Linked DNA regions of Homo sapiens. The protein of the gene in region 1 purifies or fractionates together with the protein of each later gene. This does not show direct contact. Each region holds a gene or a part of one and is shown on either strand. Other genes may lie near its edges.

Evidence for each region.
Region 2: the proteins of FAM167A (region 1) and CDC42BPB purify together in Homo sapiens (co-immunoprecipitation; 4 studies listed by BioGRID and IntAct, with this or other methods). This does not show direct contact.
Region 3: the proteins of FAM167A (region 1) and DCP1B purify together in Homo sapiens (co-immunoprecipitation; 3 studies listed by BioGRID and IntAct, with this or other methods). This does not show direct contact.

What each region holds. Positions count from the first base shown.
Region 1 is NC_000008.11:11,463,754-11,470,735, reverse strand, and holds the start of FAM167A (protein FAM167A), read left to right. Parts: upstream 1-3,982; 5' UTR 3,983-4,110; intron 4,111-6,982.
Region 2 is NC_000014.9:102,931,872-102,935,595, forward strand, and holds the end of CDC42BPB (serine/threonine-protein kinase MRCK beta), read right to left. Parts: intron 1,973-3,724; coding exon 1,841-1,972; 3' UTR 509-1,840; downstream 1-508. UniProt on the Homo sapiens protein: Serine/threonine-protein kinase which is an important downstream effector of CDC42 and plays a role in the regulation of cytoskeleton reorganization and cell migration. Regulates actin cytoskeletal reorganization via phosphorylation of PPP1R12C and MYL9/MLC2.
Region 3 is NC_000012.12:1,994,450-2,001,503, reverse strand, and holds part of DCP1B (mRNA-decapping enzyme 1B), read left to right. Parts: intron 1-3,528; coding exon 3,529-3,569; intron 3,570-7,054. UniProt on the Homo sapiens protein: May play a role in the degradation of mRNAs, both in normal mRNA turnover and in nonsense-mediated mRNA decay. May remove the 7-methyl guanine cap structure from mRNA molecules, yielding a 5'-phosphorylated mRNA fragment and 7m-GDP.

The DNA of each region.
Region 1 (6,982 bases):
GGATGTCGCCACCCTTAGTGTCCTCTGTCCCACAGAGCCCAACAGAAATTTCATCCTTCCTTCTCTTGTATCCCTAGAATCCAGGAATCGCCTTCAAGTAGCTTATAGACTCAAAAGGGATCAGGAGAGACTGATTTAGAGAGGGCTTTGTGCCCTGAGAGTGACAAGAGAGCAGAGTCTGGTTCCAGCTGTGCATTTGGAGCTCCCCTCGGGGGAAGGCCAGTCCTCACGAGGTCTGCCAGGCCCAAGGGCTCTGCCGCAGCACCTGCCCTGCCCTGTCTCTGATGTCATCTCCCACCCATGCTCTACTCCCTGCCTGCTGCATTCTGGCCTCGAGGCATCCATGCTGGCCCCTGATTGTGGCAGGCACGTTTGTTGGCCCAGGGCCTCTGCACTGACCCTTTCCCTAGAACACCCTTCCCCAAGACACCACAAGACCCCCTCCATCGTCTCCCTCAAATCTTTGCTAGAAAACCACCTTATTAGCGAGGCCAGCCCTGCCTACCTTGCCTGAAAACGTGCACACTCTTCCCCTCCTCTGCCATTACTTCCAATCCAAGTCTACAATTCTGTTTTTCTATCACTCACAATATTGCTTATTTACTTAGCGTATTTGTCGGTCATCGTCTGCCTGCTTTCCTCTGCTAGATTATCAGTTCTCAAGGGCGAGGTCCTTCATCTAACTTGTTCACTAACATTTCCCAAGAGCCTAGAACAATGTCTGGTATTTAGTGGTACTAATACGTATTTATTGAACAGATGAATAAACGAATTGGGAGAAATTCTGAAAGAATATTTTAAGTTTAAATCTTTTATTTATTTATTTATTTATTTATTTATTTATTTATTTATTTTTGAGACAGGGTCTTGCTCTGTTGCCCAGGCTGGAGTGCGGTGGTGCAATCATGGCTGACTGCAACCTTCAACTCCTGGGTTCCAGCAGTCCCACCTCAGCCTCCCAAGTAGCTGGGACTTCAGGTGTGTACCACCATGCCCAGCTGAGTTTTCTTTCTTCTTCTTCATTTTTTTTTTGTAGAAGTGGGGTCTCACCATGTTGCCCAGGCTGGTCTCCAATTCCTGGGCTCAAGCAATCCCCCTGCCTCGGCCTCCCAAATTGCTGGGATTACAGGTGTGAGCTACCATGCCTGGTTGGGCATTTTTCTTGACTCATCTATTTCACAGCTTCCTGTAGGATTATAAGAGGCAATGTCTCATGCATCATGCACCAACGGAAAGAAAACTTCTCTGTAAGGAATCAAAGGGAAGAGAGAACCTCTAGGTGGCCTTGCCTTCTCTGGCCCACCCAGATCCTCCCACCATCACTGGGTTTCAGTGTGCCTGACACAAAAGGAAGTGCCATCAGAAACACCAACACAGTGCCATCTTCCCTTTTGAGTAGTGTTTCTTGATGTTTCTCATTACAAAACGATTCATTGTAGAAAACGAATGCAGGCTTACAGAAGACATTTTAAATCCTCCATTATCCTGCAGCCCAGAGATAACGACAGCTAATATTTGCATACACTCTTCCAATCTTTTTTCCATGCATACATATGAATTAGATATTGGAATGAGAAGTTTCATAATGTACACAGGATTTGGTGTCCCAGTCTTATTTACTTAGCGTTAAATCGTTAGTATTTTTCTATATGATCAAATAGCTTTTGAGAATATTATTTCTATGGCTACATACCATTCTGTGCTAACTCATTTATTTGACCACTCCATATGATTTCACTTTGGAGTTGAGGCTACTCCAACCAAGACTGCTCTTCCTCCTCCCCTTCCTCTTTCCTCTGGCCCACTCTCCTCCTGGTCCCCATCACTGATTACCCTCCTGCCCGCAGACAAATGCCAGGCAGAATGGGAGCCACAGGGCAAGACACCACCCTTGCCTTGGACAGGCTGCCTGTCCATTTGAGGCATGCCACAATTCCCCCATGAGAAAGCATCTGCACTCCCAGAAATAGAAGCCATAGGTCAAACAGGGAGCCAGGAGGTAGAGGTGGGACAAAGCATTTCCAGATGGGGCTGAATGGCCCATCCAAAAAGATCTTGGAGCATTCACCACGTGCCAGGGCCATGGGCACACCAGTGAGCAATGCAGCCAACTAGGGCTCAGCACCGGGGCTGTGGTCAGAAACAGCCAGCACCCAGAAGGATGCTTTATCCCCAAGTCCAGATTGAGGCTCCTGCTTGCAAACATGGTTCATGCCCTTCCGGAGCCTACTGCCTCAGAGGGAGACACATACTAATCAAATAACCTCACAGGTAAACTTGGAATTATAACTGGTCCATGAAGGACATAAGGCAGGGGGCTGCCAGCACCTGTAACCTGGGGTTCCCTTAGGAGGCAGAGCTGCAGCAGCCTGTCGGGAGGAGCAGGTGCACAATGGGACTGGAAGAGGGTCTGTTGTCTGGGGAGCAGGGTCTGTGCAAGACAAGGCCCTAGAGACGGACAGAGGCCAGCCAGGCCCCTGCAGCCAAGCTAGCTGTTAATCCTCAGAGGACTGGGGGCGTTGAAGGCCTTTAAGCAGAAGCAGCTGAGACTGGATTTCCATTCTTAAGAGTTTCCCCTGTTTGTGGAGGAGTAACTGGCTTGGGAGGCGCTGAGAGAGGGTAAAGGGAGATCAGTATGGAGACTGCGTGCACGCTTGGACCCGGGTGGCAGGTCCCAGAACTGGGTAGGGCAAGCTGCTGGTGGCTTGGGTAGGGACAGTGGCAGCGGGCAGGAAGAAGGAAGGAGTGATGTTTAGGAGCTGGAATCAGAAGATCTGGATCAAGGCTGTGACTCTCCAAAAGATGCTTGTTAATACACCCGCTAGCTTAGGACCGTTCCCTCATTAGCATGACTAGGTCTGTACTGGCAAGATGTCTCCTTAGACGACGTCCCTCAGAGGACCTTCCAGTGAAGGTCAGAAAGGAAGGGAGTAGGTCAGGGCTGGATGCGGAGTTGCAGTGAAGGACGCGGGCACCAGAGGGCAGCACGAGTGTCTCGGGCCCCTGCAGGGGCTAAGACCCCACAGAAGGCCCGACCAGCCGCGCACCTGCCTGGAGCCTGCGCCAGTCACTTTGCAGCCCCACCACTCAGCTTCGCGTCTGGCCATGTAGGCGGCGCCTGCGCGCACGCCCAGGGCTATCGTGAGAATGGCAGACTGGAGCCCTTTGAAAGACGCTTCCAGCCCCGGGCATCTAGGAAAGGTGCTTGATGAGGTCTGGGGTAAGAGACCCCCATCCAGTAACCAGCCTTGGGGCCTCCAGTGTCTGGCCTGGGCCCCTCGTCAGAAGCTGGGACTGGTCCTGAAGACCTGCGGTCCGGGCAGCTCGGGCTGCTGTCCTGCCTGTGCCTTAGGGTTTGCAGCTCTGGGCTCTGATGCAGCAGGGACTGGGTCTTAGAATCTAACGACAGCCAGAGGTGGCCGATGCCGCGCCCCTGGCGGGACAGACACCCTGTGGTTAGTGGGGCAAACGCTCGCGTCTTTGCACCTCAGTTTCCTCATCTGGCAGCCAGAGATGCCTACACTTGCCCTGCTGGGTCGTTGGGGGGCGTGGCCCACGGTAGGCGCTCGCGGGCAGTCGTGGCCGCGGGTCCTATGAACTCCTGCCGTTTGGGGGTGGGTGAGGCCCTGGGCGTGGGGTCCCCCTGCGCCCTCCATGCGGACAAACTTCTGACAGTGGCGCAGTCACGTTGCCACAATTGGGGGAAACTGCCTTGGTTTCGGGTTTAATGAGAAAATGGATGTTTGGGTTTGGTTTCATCTGGGGTTTGGCGAAGGCATGTAGTTCCTCTCCACTCGCGGGGGCTGCCCGGGCCGGTGAACCGACAGGGCGCTAGGACCCGGGGCGCGCTCGGACCCGGGGCGAGAACGCGAGGCCGGGATCGCGGTGAAAGGCTCGCGGCGGAGAGCTCGGCCGTCGCCAGGCAACCGCCCTGACGCAACGCAGGGGGAAAAAAAAAGTCCTTTCCGAAAGGAGCAGCGCCGAGAATTCACCGGAGCTCGGGGAGGCGAGGCGGGAGCCCTGAGCTGAGGCCGGGCAGCGCGGACCCGCGCAGGAGGAGGCGGCGGGGACACCGGCGAGTCCCCAGCAGGGCCCCTGGGCTCCCGGAAGGTGGGTTCGCGCCGGCGGCGGGGACTTTCCCAGGGACTGGGAGGTGTGGCCGCGGCGGGCGGCGCAGTCTGGGCAGGGGCTGAGGCGTCGCAGGTCCCCAGCGCGAGCACTGGCCCGGAGCAGCCCGATCCCAAAGCGCCCTGGAGGGGACGCGCTCCTACCGCCCCCCCGGGAGAGGCCGCTCATGCGCTCCCGCGGGTTCGCTGCCCTCCCAGAGGAGCCGGGCAGCCAGGGCTGGACTTCATCTCCTAGCTCCCTGCTGGCCGTGTCCGGGCTCGGATTCTGGGTGGAGGTTCGGGGTCTGCCGTCTGAGAGGGAGGGCCGCACTCAGCCTCTCCGGGTCCACTCCCAGGCGGCTGGTGACCTCCAAGCCCAGCCTGGCTCCTGTGTATAGGTTCAGTGAGATGGAAGTTTCTGTCCCCACGGATGCGGTCCCTAACTAATGGGAGGTGGCCCAGGGCACCTGGACCCAAGGGTGCTCTAAGGACCCAAGCCAGTGTGACCTGAGGGAACGGCACAGCCGCAGGGGCCCCCGGGAATGAGCAGGTCAGCCGTGAAGGTGGGCACCCTGAGTCACCGAGACACCGGAGCACAGACGGCGGGGGGGAGGGTGTCTTCTTCAGCCAAGTTAGGTTGGATGTATAGGTTTTCTGCACACCCGTTACTGCCTGGTTTTTATTCCCGGCGGGGCTTGGAGGGAATTCTGAGGACTGGGACCTCCTGGGAAGATCTGGAAGGAGGGTTGACTCTAGGTTGGGGGCTGGCCACTGCCGTATGCCTGCAAGCAGGTTCTCCCAAGTCAAGTTTCCACAAACTCCCCGTCATTGCTGGAGAATCCCAGAAGATGAGATCACGTCCTATCCACAGGGTTTTCACCAAGGGGCACATGCTCCAAAGCAGCTTCCCACTGACACAGTAGACACAGTCCTGCCCCTCACTAAGCTCGGGATGGAGCGTGGAGAGCGTGGACAAAGTCTTGGGAAAGCAGAGGTGCTGTGGCGCCTGTTGCCTGAGGGCGTTGGCAGGATAGGAACTTCTGCAGCGTGTTTTTAAGGAGCTTGGAAAGCAGCCATGGGCTGTGCTTGGAATGGATAAAGATGACAGCTCTTCTTTCTTGAGTGCATTTATGGACCATGCACTACTTAGAAACCCTTCGCATCCCTTGGTCACTCCATCCTCCCCATCAGTCTTCAAGGAGACTCTATTATCCGTTTTGCCAATGGGACTCTAAGAAATTGAGTGACCTGGTGTGGCTCCCACACCTGGTGAGAGAGCAGAGAGTCAGCCTCACGTGCCTGACTCCCGGGACAGTGCTCTCAGACGAAGGCTGCTTTGGGAAATCTGAGGCATCTAAGGCCCAGAGAGGGGCAGAAACCACTCACGCCCAGATGAAATGAGAACTGTGTCGTGGGGCTCATCTTATGACCTGAGAAGGTCCCCTGCCTGCTTGAGGAACCCTGTGGAGCCAGGAAAGCCATTTCTTCTATTAGGAGCTTGCAAGGCTGTGTTGTTGGGCCTGGCCGGCCTCAATTCTTCCCACCTGAAGCAGAAGAAAGGGTTGCTCCCCCACACCCTGTTCTCCTCCTTGCCTGCCCAGAGCCCCCAGACTCCCTGCGCACTTGCTCCTGTTCTTCTGGTCCTCGCAATTACATGCATGGATTTCTACTAAATTGCCAGTCCCCGCCTTCCTGTCTACTAGCTTGGCCCCCCTCCAGGAGGAACTCTGGCAGGGAAATAAATTAAGGCCATGCCTAACTATTTGCTGAGAGAGAGCCACAGAGCCCCAGGCCAATGAGGAAGAAACTACTTGCTAGGCTTCTCACACCCTGGCTGCTGTGTTCTCTAGGCAAATCTTGCTCACAGAAAGCCCCGTTGGCCCTACAGGAGCCCCGGTATTCCCAGAACCCTTTGGGAGCTGTGCTTTCCCAAGGGACTTGAGCTGCTTGCAAAGGCGGAAAATGAGTAACTGAGCACTTTGCTCCTGGTTTCCAGACCAGGGGTGGGAGAGCACGCACGTGCCACTAACTGGAAATCCCTTAGGATTAGCCTGGCTGGCTGTTACTGTGCAAATGCACCCCGAGACTTGGATTGCCATGTGGAGACAGGAAGGAAAAGCACAGACTGAAACAGACCTTGAGGGGCTGAGGATGGGCTACATGGTGGGCAGGGGGAGGTGGGGAGCAGGAAGGATGGGACAGGGTGGGAAAAGAGTTTAGGAGGGGCGGCAGGTGAGCCTCACTGGCTCTGCAATCACCTGTAGAGTCTGAGCTGCCACCGAGGGCCGTGTTGCCAGGATGAGTCAGGTAGGCCGCAGGTCTCAGCTTTTCCCTGGTTAGGACCGTTGCCCTGTCCATTAAAGGCCAACTCTTCCCCACCCTGACCCCTACCACTTCTCTCTGGAGAAGTGTTGGAGAGGAAGGACAAGCATGGAGAAAGAAGGTGAGCAGAGCAGTTCAAGGGGGGCTGCTCCCACCTCACCCCCTTTCCTTCTGCACACTGCCTGCCTGCTCATCTCTGCCAGGCAGCATCAAATCTCATCCATCAGCCACTCTCGAGAGGACTTTGCTGAGCAGTAGCCCAGTCTCCCTGTGGGCACAGCCGTCAAGGGGGCCTCTCTTCTCTAGCAGCAGCTGTCTAGCGTCAGGCTCCTCTCCATGCCAGGGCCCTGCCACGTGGCCTTAGCAAGCACATAGTAGCTCCCCCCAAGTTGTCATCTATAGTGGGGGGTGGCTTTGCTCCCCCACCACAAAGCTCTCTTCACTGAGGAATTTCCAGAAGGTCCCTCGGGTGCCCATAAGTGTGATCCTCCTCCCCAGCGGCCTTTGCAGAAACCTGAAGAGGATGAGGGTTCACCTTCTCCCACTGGGGGCAT
Region 2 (3,724 bases), on another chromosome or scaffold:
TGCCCTTGTCCTACCAAGGACAACTAGGTCTCAGTGAGTGGCAAATAGAAGCCAACTCCCTGCATAACTCAGGAAACTGACTCCGAGCATTCCCTCAACCAGGGACCACTCACCCTGGCCCAGACCTCCCCGAGAACTCCTGCCTCTTCCTGGGGCCTCTGGCCTACCCCATCCTGTCCCTTGGGGCTGCTGGCAGGGTTGGCGTGTATGGGTGTGGACAGGCAGACCCTCGCGGGCAGCCTGCTCCTGGGGCCCTGGCACTGCCTGGCTGGGGCTCACAGGCACGCTGCCCTCCTCCCTTCACTCCTGCCCCAAGGATGCCCTCTGTTCAGGCTGAACACCCCAACAGCAGCCTTTTGGGTGACCTCCGAGTGAGTTACCCAGAATAGCTTCTGCTGGCGAATAGCATCTTCTGCAAGGTGGCTCCTTCACTGCCTTTTGGAGCTCAGGCACTTCTGGGGCCCAGACACACGGGTGACATGTTACCACATCCAAACGGACCACTGGGAACTTTAAAACTGCCGTCTTCTGCTTTATTGACAGGTAAATTGTTCAAAAATGTTCTCACAATTCAATAATTAATTACAAAGACTGAGACTTACATTAAAAAAGTAAAAACCAGAACCCCCCAGGTGCCCATCCAGCAGAAGGCCCAGGAGGGCAGTGGGGTGGCAGGGCTAGGCGGTGCTGGGCCACTCAGTGCCGACTTGGGGAAGTGCACGTCCTGAACAGCCTTGCCAAGCAGCCGACCGGTGGGAGGACAGGGGAAGCCTGGCCCAAGCTGTGGACAAGCTGTGTCTGCCGCCACAGTTAATCACAAGCCTCTGACGACACAGGGCCACAGAGCTGGTCACTCAACATCTGGTACAAAGGGTGAGGTGAAATCCACGCGCAGGGGATTGCTGTGCCGTGGGCCGGGGCCAGTGTGCAGGAGTGTGTTGGGTGGGTCTACGTGATCATACGGGCTACTAATCACGGGGGCTCCATGCGGGGGCAGGACTGGTGGGGGGGGGGGCGGGCAGGGCGGGGCGGGGTGGGGTATCCCAGTGGCTGCTTCGTGGCGCCCTGGGGCTCTGACTTCCCTCAGCCCAGCAGGCCACAGGGCCTGCCTGCACCACGACACTCGCTGGTTTTATGGCAGGAGGCAGAAGCCGTGGAAGCGAATGGAAAACAGCACAGCTGACTTCACAGTAGTAGATACTGGTGACACTTCATGGCTGCGACCCAGAATGAACTTAATGCACACAGGGACGCAGGGTGTCACTGGTCCTGGGCCTTTGTCCATGACTAGGTGGTCAGCAGGACTTCTGCAGCTGACTGTGCAATGGCTAAATGAAAAAAAGGCCACAGACTAACCTCCACTTTCCTGTCTTCAAAATTCTAGTGACACTGGGAATGCTATAGGACCTCCTACTATTCTCTTAAGGTCCTAGGAAAGTTTCAGGAACTAGGGAAAAGACTGGGTACTGAGGCTGTGTCCCCAGATGTCTGCTTCCGAAGCAGCCGCGTCATGACGGGTTTCTGCTGAGGAAGTGGTGTTGGCAGGGCCCCATATGCCCTCTCGGGTTGTCAGGGGTGGGAGACAGGCTGTATGGGGGTCCTTCATGTGCAGATGGAACAGCATCGCCTCACAGCTGTGCAGACGAACAGATGTGGTCTACTGCCACGAACAATGCGGCATAAAACTGATCAATATTATAATAAAGATTTGTCTTCTTCATCTCCATATCTACAAAGTGATTCTACATTTCCTTGGACAACACTGGAGGGCCCGCTCAGTCTTGGCACTGACGCTGGAGGCCATCTCCAGCTCCCTGGCCCCTGTGGCGAGCTGGCGGCTTCAGGTGTCACAGGCCGGCTGCTCCAGGCCTTCGAGGGGGAGCTGGCTCCTGTGGGGGGAGTTGGGGCTCGGTGGGCCGCTGGGGTTGGAGCTATTCGATGGAGTTGAGTGTTTGGTGGAGTCCGAATCAGGCTGTGAACAGGAAGAGGGCAGGGTGAGCACCCGCTGCCCTAGCCTGGGGAGGCACGCGTGCCCAGCTGGATGCAAATGTTTGCTCAGGGACAACTGTCGCAACTGCTCTTCTCCCTTCATGTTATGAAAACACACACGCTCTACACCAGCGATTCGTGGGGCCCTTAGGCGTGCTGGTGAGAGTCACAAATTGATGTCTAATCCCACTCAAAAATAACATGGTAATTATCATTACAAAAGACAGCAACTCTGTAGTGAAGAAATCAGATGGGGCCGGACGCAGTGGCTCCTGCCTGTAATCCCAGCACTTTGGGAGGCCAAGGTGGGTGGATCACACTTGAGGTCAGGAGTTTGAGACCAGCCTGGCCAATGTGGTAACACCCCATCTCTACTGAAAACACAAAAATCAGGCCGGGCGTGGTGGCTTACGCCTGTAATCCCAGCACTTTGGGAGGCCAAGGCAGGCGGATCACAAAGTCAGGAGATTGGGACCATCCTGGCTAACATGGTGAAACCCCGTCTCTACTAAAAATACAAAAAATTAGCCGGGCGTGGCAGCATGCACCTGTAGTCCCAACTGCTGGGGAGGCTGAGGCAGGAGAATGGCGTGAACCCGGGAGGCGGAGCTTGCAGTGAGCCGAGACTGCACCACTGCACTCCAGCCTGGGCGACAGAGCGAGACTCCGTCACAAAACAAAACAAAACAAAAAAAACAAAAATCAGCCGGGCACAGTGGTGCGCACCTGCAACCAAGCAGTCAAAGTCACAAACGCGACACTCTTTCCTGAGAAAAGCACTAGGAATAGAGGGGAACCTCCTCAACAAAATAAAACAGCTAACCATACCCAATGGTGAGAGACAAAATTTTCCCCTAAGATCAGCCACGGGCCGGGTGCGGTGGCTCACACCTGTAATCCCAGCACTTTGGGAGGCCAAGGTGGGCAGATCATGAGGTCAGGAGATTGAGACCATCCTAACACAGTGAAACCCTGTCTCTGCTAAAAATACAAAAAAAAATTAGCCTGGCATGGTGGTGGGCACCTGTAGTCCCAGCTACTCGGGAGGCTGAGGCAGGAGAATGGCGTGAACCCAGGAGGCGGAGCTTGCAGTGAGCCGAGATCGCATCACTGCATTCCAGCCTGGGCTACATGTAGAGTGAGACTCTGTCTCAAAAAAAAAAAAAAAAGAAAAAAAGAAAAAAGATCAGCAACAAGGCAAGGATGCCTGCTTTCACCACTGCTATTCAACATGGGGCTAGAGGTTCTAGGCAGAGCGATCAGGGAAGAAACAGAAATGAAAAGGATTCCAAGTTAGGAAGGAAGTAAAGCTATCTCTCTTTGCAGATGACATGATTATACACGTAGAAAATCCCAAAGAAAAGAATCCACAAAAAACTAATAAGCTCAGCAAAGTTATAGGGTATAAGATCAACACACACAAGTCAGTTGTGTTTCTATACACCAGAAATGAACACACTGAAAAGGAAACTGAAAAAAAAAATTCAATTTACAACAGCATCCAAAAGAATAGCTAGGAATAGTTTAACCAGAGAAGGGAAAAATGTGTACACTATAAATTACAAAACATTGCTGAAAAAATAGCTTAAATAAATGGAACACATCTCATGTTCGTGGAGTAAAAATATTGTTAAGATGGCTGTACTAGGCCGGGTATAGTGCCTCACGCCTGTAATCCCAGCACTTTGGGAGGCCAAGGCGGGCAGATCACTTGAGGTCAGGAGTTTGAGACCAG
Region 3 (7,054 bases), on another chromosome or scaffold:
GTCCCCAAAATTTGCAAAACAGCACTATTTTATATTCCATTTTGGGTTTTTTAGTATTTTGAATTCTGAATTGCTTATTTCTTTAGCACTTGTTAGATTTTATAATACAGTATAATATTAAATCCTCAAATTGTACTTTTAAAATTTAAGCTAAAATACCCCAGGACTGGTAACTAATACTTTCACATAAAAGTCCTCCTTAAAGGATCTAAGGAACATCTAATCTTGTTTTAGCTATTCTCCACATCCCTAACCCTGGACTTTGCTCAGAAAGAAAAAAAAAATCTGGTTGCCCTTGGATAACTATGGAGGGGCCAGGAAAATGCGTGAATTTGGGCAGCTGTAATAGAACAGAAATGTATATTTTCAAAGTCTCTTTTATCCAGGTGTCATAGAGCGCCTGACGTTTTTTCATCAAAAGATCTGAGTAGTGTAAGCTGATTATCTCTCTTTTTTTTTTTTTTTTGAGACGAAGTCTCGCTCTTGTTCCCCAGGCTGGAGTGCAATGGCGTGACCATGGCTCACTGCAACCTCTGCCTCCTGGGTTCAAGCTATTCTCCTGCCTCAGCCTCCAGAGTATCCAGGATTACAGGCGCCTGCCACCACTCCTGGCTAATTTTTGCATTTTTAGTAGAGACGGGGTTTCACCATGTTGGCCAGGCTGGTCTTGAACTCCTGACCTCAGGTGATCCACCCGCCTCGGCCTCCCAAAGTGCTGGGGTTACAGGCGTGAGCCCCTGTGCCCGGCCTGGTTATCTCTTTTCAATGGAGAAACTGAGACATATAATAATAAACTAATTAGCCCAGCATGATCTGGCAAGAACCCCACTACAGGTCCCAGGTTGTGATTACTGAAACACAACTCCTTCCTATGAACAAACTCATATTCTTTGTGTGTAATGCTAAATAAAAATCTTAGTTTTAAGAATTACTTGTTATAAGTTAGAGATTAATTTTAGGAGAAGCATGCCTTTTACATTTTTGACCTTGGAATTTAAAAACTAAAATGTGGCATTAAAGGTTTTTTTTTTTTAATTAAGAAAAGAGAATTTCTGTTACATCAAGGAAGAAAGGAAACAAGTCAGAAGCTATTTAGTTTTATGTGTGCTGATATATATAGATATCCTTATTCAGATCTCTAAGATGAAACAGTCCAAGGTCAGATACTGGAAGACCAGGAGAGTGTTTTGATCTTGTGGGGAGTGATCCTGACTACATAGAGGTTCTGCAAAGTCCTAGTTCTATCACCTGTATCTTGGCTCAGTTTCCTAACAATGTAATGGATAATACCAAATACTTTCTACAAATTTATTTTTAAATGCTTTGTGGACTTGTGAATACTTGCTGACTGAATCAGTTAAACTTTAGGGACAGCCAAAAATTTGTATACTGTTCAGGTAGCATTTACTGTACTGTAGGGGCCATTTTCCTGATTAATACTTTGGTGGTTTGGGTGTAAGTAATTCTTAGTGCTTCAGGTACACTCAGGATATACATTTGTCAGCAGATAGGAATTAACCATGTTTGTTTTCAAAGAAAGATAAGTAATGTTTCTGTATATATATTTTTTCATTTTGACTTGGATATTTTTCAAAGTACAGGGGCAAACGAGCCACATTTCAGAAATAAGGATATGTTTCACAGTATGTTGTGGTGATTTATACAAACTTCATAGTGAATCTAGTTTAAGGATGAACTCCCTGACTTACCTATGCTTTTATGTTAGGGAAAAAACTGGCTAAAGTTGTTTTAATTGTTATTTATTTATTTATTTATAAGAAACAGGGTCTCCCTCTGTTGCCCAGGCTGGAATGCAGAGGTACAATCATAGCTCACTGTAGCCTCAAACTCCTGGGCTGAAGCAATCCTCCCTCCTCAGCCTCCTGAGTAGCTGAGACTACCGGCATGTGCCACCACACCTGGCTAATTAAAAAAATTTTTGTTTTGTAGAGGCAAGGTCTCACTATGTTGCCCAGGCTGGTCTCAAACTGAACTCCTGGCCACAAGCGATCCTCCTGCCTGCCTCAGCCTCCCAGAGTGCTGGGATTACAGACATGAGCCACTGTGCCTGGTCTAAATTCTTTATTTATAATTTCATATTCCATAATAATAAACATCTTGAGATTAAATATTTTGTTACTAGGTAATGATTTTTTATAGCCATTTACTCTTGATAATAGCTTGATATGATTTGTGCCATAATGGATTTTGTTTTCAGGACTTGTAATATAATTTCATGGGCAGAGAGTATGTTGTTGAACTAAGGCAGTGAGTGGCTCTCAAACTAGCATACATCAGAATCACCTGGACAGTTTAATAAAACCCAGATTGCTGAGCACCATCCCCAGAGTTTCTGATTCAGTAGGTTTGGGCAGGAGCCCAAGAGCTTGCATTTCTAATAAGTTCCCAGGTGACGCTGATGCCGCTGATCTGGGGATAACACTTTGAGACCCACTGAACTAAAGTGAATGAGAAATTTGCTGAAATTGCCTGAGCATGTGAAAGGATCATGCCTTGTGTGCCTTTTAAAAACTGCTGTTTTGACATTACGCTTTTTTTAAAAGGGCGTATTTTTCACCAGAATTACAGAGTACTTAAATTTTGAATGATTATGGTGATGAATATTAATAATAAAATATCAGGGGTTTAAATAGAATGCTGAAATTAAACCATGTAAATTGCAAAAGTACATTTTAAATTCTGAATTACAGTAGGTCTGGTTCGTGGTTAGTCAAACACCTGGATACTTACATGTGTGTTTTTTAGTATGCATTATATGGATGAATATTATAATGGCCTAGCTTCCTGCCTTTGGAGAAATGGAAAAGAAATGTGAAGTGACCTAGTTAAACCATCATTTTAACTTTACCACCTCTCCCAGATTTTCTCAGGCAGATTTCTTGAGTCCTAACTTGGTAATACTTGTGTAACTTTACTTCAGTGATCTCGGGTCAGACCTTGACTGTAAATATACTACACTAAGTAGGTGATTGATTCATCTGAGAACTCTGTGGCATCATTGCCCTCTCTGTCTAGCAGTCAAAGTAAAGTTATTGACAGATCATCTGCTCTCCTAAGTCACTGGATATGGCAGGAGAAAATGAACCCAGAAAACAAAATGAAGGATAGTGAAATGCAGACACCAGTGATGTCTGCAGCTTTCTCTATACCCAGTGTGGTGGAAGGAGAAAAAGGCAGCACTCTTCTTTCTAATTAAATCCGCATAGCACACTTATTTTCTCATTGTTTCAGCTAAGGGTATGCTGCTATCCCTGTATTTGGTAAAGAGAGATAATGATGATTTGTTTTATAAATGACAAAAGAAAGACTGCTTCCTGCTGCCTAATCTGCAGAGGCACAATGATGACATAGAACTTGCTTTCTCCTTTTCCTGAGAATAACTCCTCATGTTGGGTATATTTGGCCCATTGAAGTTATATATAATTCCTATTCTATGAGAATTTGTTTTATACCTTTGTGAATTGAAGAGAACATACATGTCTTGTGTGTTTTGTTTTTATTGTTTAGGAGAAAACTGATGTGGAAGGAACCTTATTTGTTTATACAAGGTAAGAGTGTTTCACTTTTATAAAGAAACTAATCTTCAAAATAATATTTTAGCTCCGTTGTGTCACTCTTCTTCAAGTGCATGCAGTTTTATTTCAAAAAGAAGTAAAAGAATTAAATCTCAGTTTTGAAATTATTAGTTGACACGAAGAAGGGAATACCAAATAATGTCACCTGGTATATCGTGATGAATACTAATTTCAGAATATAATTTAAACTTCAATGTAGATGAACTTAAATCATTGACTGGGCACTGTTTAAAATAGATTAAATATTCTTTGATTCAAGTGAATGGCACAAAGTTCTTGAATATAATGCATTGGCAAGGAGCTAGAAGAACACTATCAGAAATACTAGATTGTTCAGTTAATATTTGGAAAAGGGTTTCATTGATCATTTTTCTTTTTTTTGAGATGGAGTCTCGCTCTGTCACCAAGGCTGGAGTGCAGTGGCACGATCACAGCTCTTGGCTTGCTGCAACCTCTGCCTCCTGAGTTCAAGTGATTCTCCTGCCTCAGCCTTCTGAGTAGCTGGGATTACAGGCATGCGCCACCACGCCCAGCTAATTTTTAGTAGCAACGGAGGTTTCACCATGTTGGTCAGGCTGGTCTCAAACTCCTGACCTCGTGATCCACCCGCCTTGGCCTCCTAAAGTGCTGGGATTACAGGCGTGAGCCACCGCACCTGGCTGTTGATCACTTTTCTCCCACCCCTGACTCTTTAAAAAAGCATGATCCAAAATTGAAGATGTCTTTCAGTCCTCCATTGTCTAGTCAATAGAATATGTTTCAGGATAGATTTAATAAACTCATGTTTTTAGTCATTTCTTGTTATCAGATATTAATATCAAATTACGAGTGCATATAGAGACATACATTATGTATATTGGCTCAATAAATAAACTTTTCATTCACATAAACATTCACATAAAATGTCATAGCCAAAGGTCATCACCTTCAATGAGGGTACAAAGATGAAATTAAAAGACCTAATATAAACCTTTCTAGGGGTATCTGTTTCACTGGGGAGACAGGAAATACACACACACAAGTGTATTTTCTTTCCACATATATTCATGTTTATGGTAAGCCACAATACAGGATAGAGTATCCTAAGTGCCAGTGGATAGATTCTGAGCAATGAATGGGCTGCTGTGATCATGGAAGGCTTTATCGCAAGCTTGTCCAACCCACGGCCCATAGGACACGTGGCCCAAGATGGCTTTGAATGTAGCCTGACAGAAATTCGTAAACTTCTTTAAAACATTAGAAGAGTTTGTTGTTTTTTTTTTTTTTTTTTTTTTTTTTTTTTTTTTTTTTTAGCTCATCAGCTATTATTAGTGTATTTTATGTGTGGCCCAAGACAATTCTTCCCTTTCCAAGGTGTCCCAGGAAGGCCAAAAGATTGGACACCCCTGCTTTATAGAGTGATGTGTCTTGAATTGGGCCTCAGGAATATGGTGGAACTTAGCTTGCATAGAGGAGAGGGAAGGCAGTCTCAACAGGAAGAATGGCAAAAGCAGGGGCGGAGAACCTGGTGTGTTAAAGGGACAGTGAGGGAGATGTGGTGCAGAGGGCTTATACTGGTTTATAGTAGTTAGCAAGTGTAAAGAGATTTGCTAGCTTGGAATGGCAGACTCTGGATTTTGAGATTATTTTCTTAGCAGTAGGAAGTTATTGAAGGCTTATGAACAGGAGAGTAATAGAGAAAATGTATGGGGAAAGTCAGTGTATTCACTTCATGGGGACGCACTAGTTCTGGAAGAAATTGGAGTCAGGACAGTGAGAAGATTATTGCAGTGGGGTAGATATGAAATGATGAGAGTTGGGATTAGAATAATAGAAATTGAAATGGAAAGGGTATTGCAATGGTGAAATTTTAAAAATGACAATATTTTGAACATGGAAGATTGAGAATGACAGAAGCATTGGTGGAAAAGAAAGACAGGAGGTCAAGAATGTGGCTTGAGGATCAGCCCTCATTTTACTTTGAAGTAATGATTTGGAACTGGTAGCAGGACACTTGGGTGGAGGTGGCCAGCCCCTCAGAGTAAGGGCAGGGCTGGAGATGGTTTAGAGTTGTCTGAAGTAATTTGGTAGTTGAAACCATGAAATAAAAGCTGTTCCCTGAAGGAGTGAGTATAAAGAGGAACCGATGAGGGTTTATGGTTAGGTTTGAGGGCCAGCAAGGATACAGATGAGTCAGCTGGAAAGATAAAAGCAGGACTAGAACAGCACAGAGAGGCCCATTTGGGGCAAAGTGTGGGCATGATGGAGGTCTGTGTATGCTGGGCAGGAGGGAGCTCAGCTGCAGGGGAGGAAGGTCTGTTCCAGTGGAGGCAACAATGGGAGGTGGAAGGAAGGAATGGGAGGCAAGGCCAGCACACTTGGTGACAAGGAGGTCAGGTTCTTCACAGTCTCAGAAGAGCAGTGGAGTACCCAAGAACCGTTGGTATATGAGTCTACATTATGCTCCCAAACATCCAGAGCACCAGAGCATGCCCCCAGGCAAGTTTATTGGGTAGAGTATGAGCACTCTTGAGGATTCTGAAGTTTACAACAAAAGCCATAGGGTTGCACTGTACTATGTGCCATGCACACAGGGTGCGTTCTCACTCATCTCTCACAACACGCATTATGATTCTTTGGAGAAGTGACAGAAAAGATGTATTAGTAAGTATTAATGATTGATTTGGGGAATTTTTAGTAGGGTTTTTTTTTAACTATGGAAGAGGAACAAATCATACAAATATTTTCTTTTGTACATCCAGACCAAATATAAGTTTGTATTTTCAAGGATTTCTTACTATACTCTAAGTCTCTAATGGAACTCTCAATTAAACAAAACATTAAATTGAGAAAAAAATCCTTTGCTGTTTTTTAGTCTTTTCTCCAAATCTAACTCCTCAAGAATGGGATGCCTCCCTTATCCCCTGCAAAACAAAAACCTCCCAGATCCTAGAATGTTGAAGGCTTTCTTCAGTAGCGAATTACAAAAAGCATGTAAAACTCATGGTGGGTGGGGGGTGGGAGGCTTGTTACAGGGAATGGAGCTGGCAGTGATTTATTTTGACTTCTCTTACAGAAGTTGCTTTAGAGCAGTTGGCACATTTATCCCCTGGGCCTATTTTCTAAATTATGAGATGCTATAGTAGCTGTACTATTAAAGAGGTGAGATCCTGTTGTGATAATGAAATACATGCAGAATCAAATTCTCATTCTTGTATGAAAACACTTAATCCCATTTAAAAAATCATTTATTTCCTCCCATGCCTTCCTTTCTGTAATAGAGAGTTCATAGAGACACCCACTGGTGATTTCTGAACTTGACAGTTCCAGAAGACCCCTAACAGAGCTCTTTGGGAGTACATTTTCATTCTTCCTCTGAATTTAAGTTGAAGTGATGATCATGATTATTTCTGGTATTGATTGTATGCTTACCACCACTTTACCCCTTTGTAAAATAAGCTAGGCAAGGATTGCCTCCC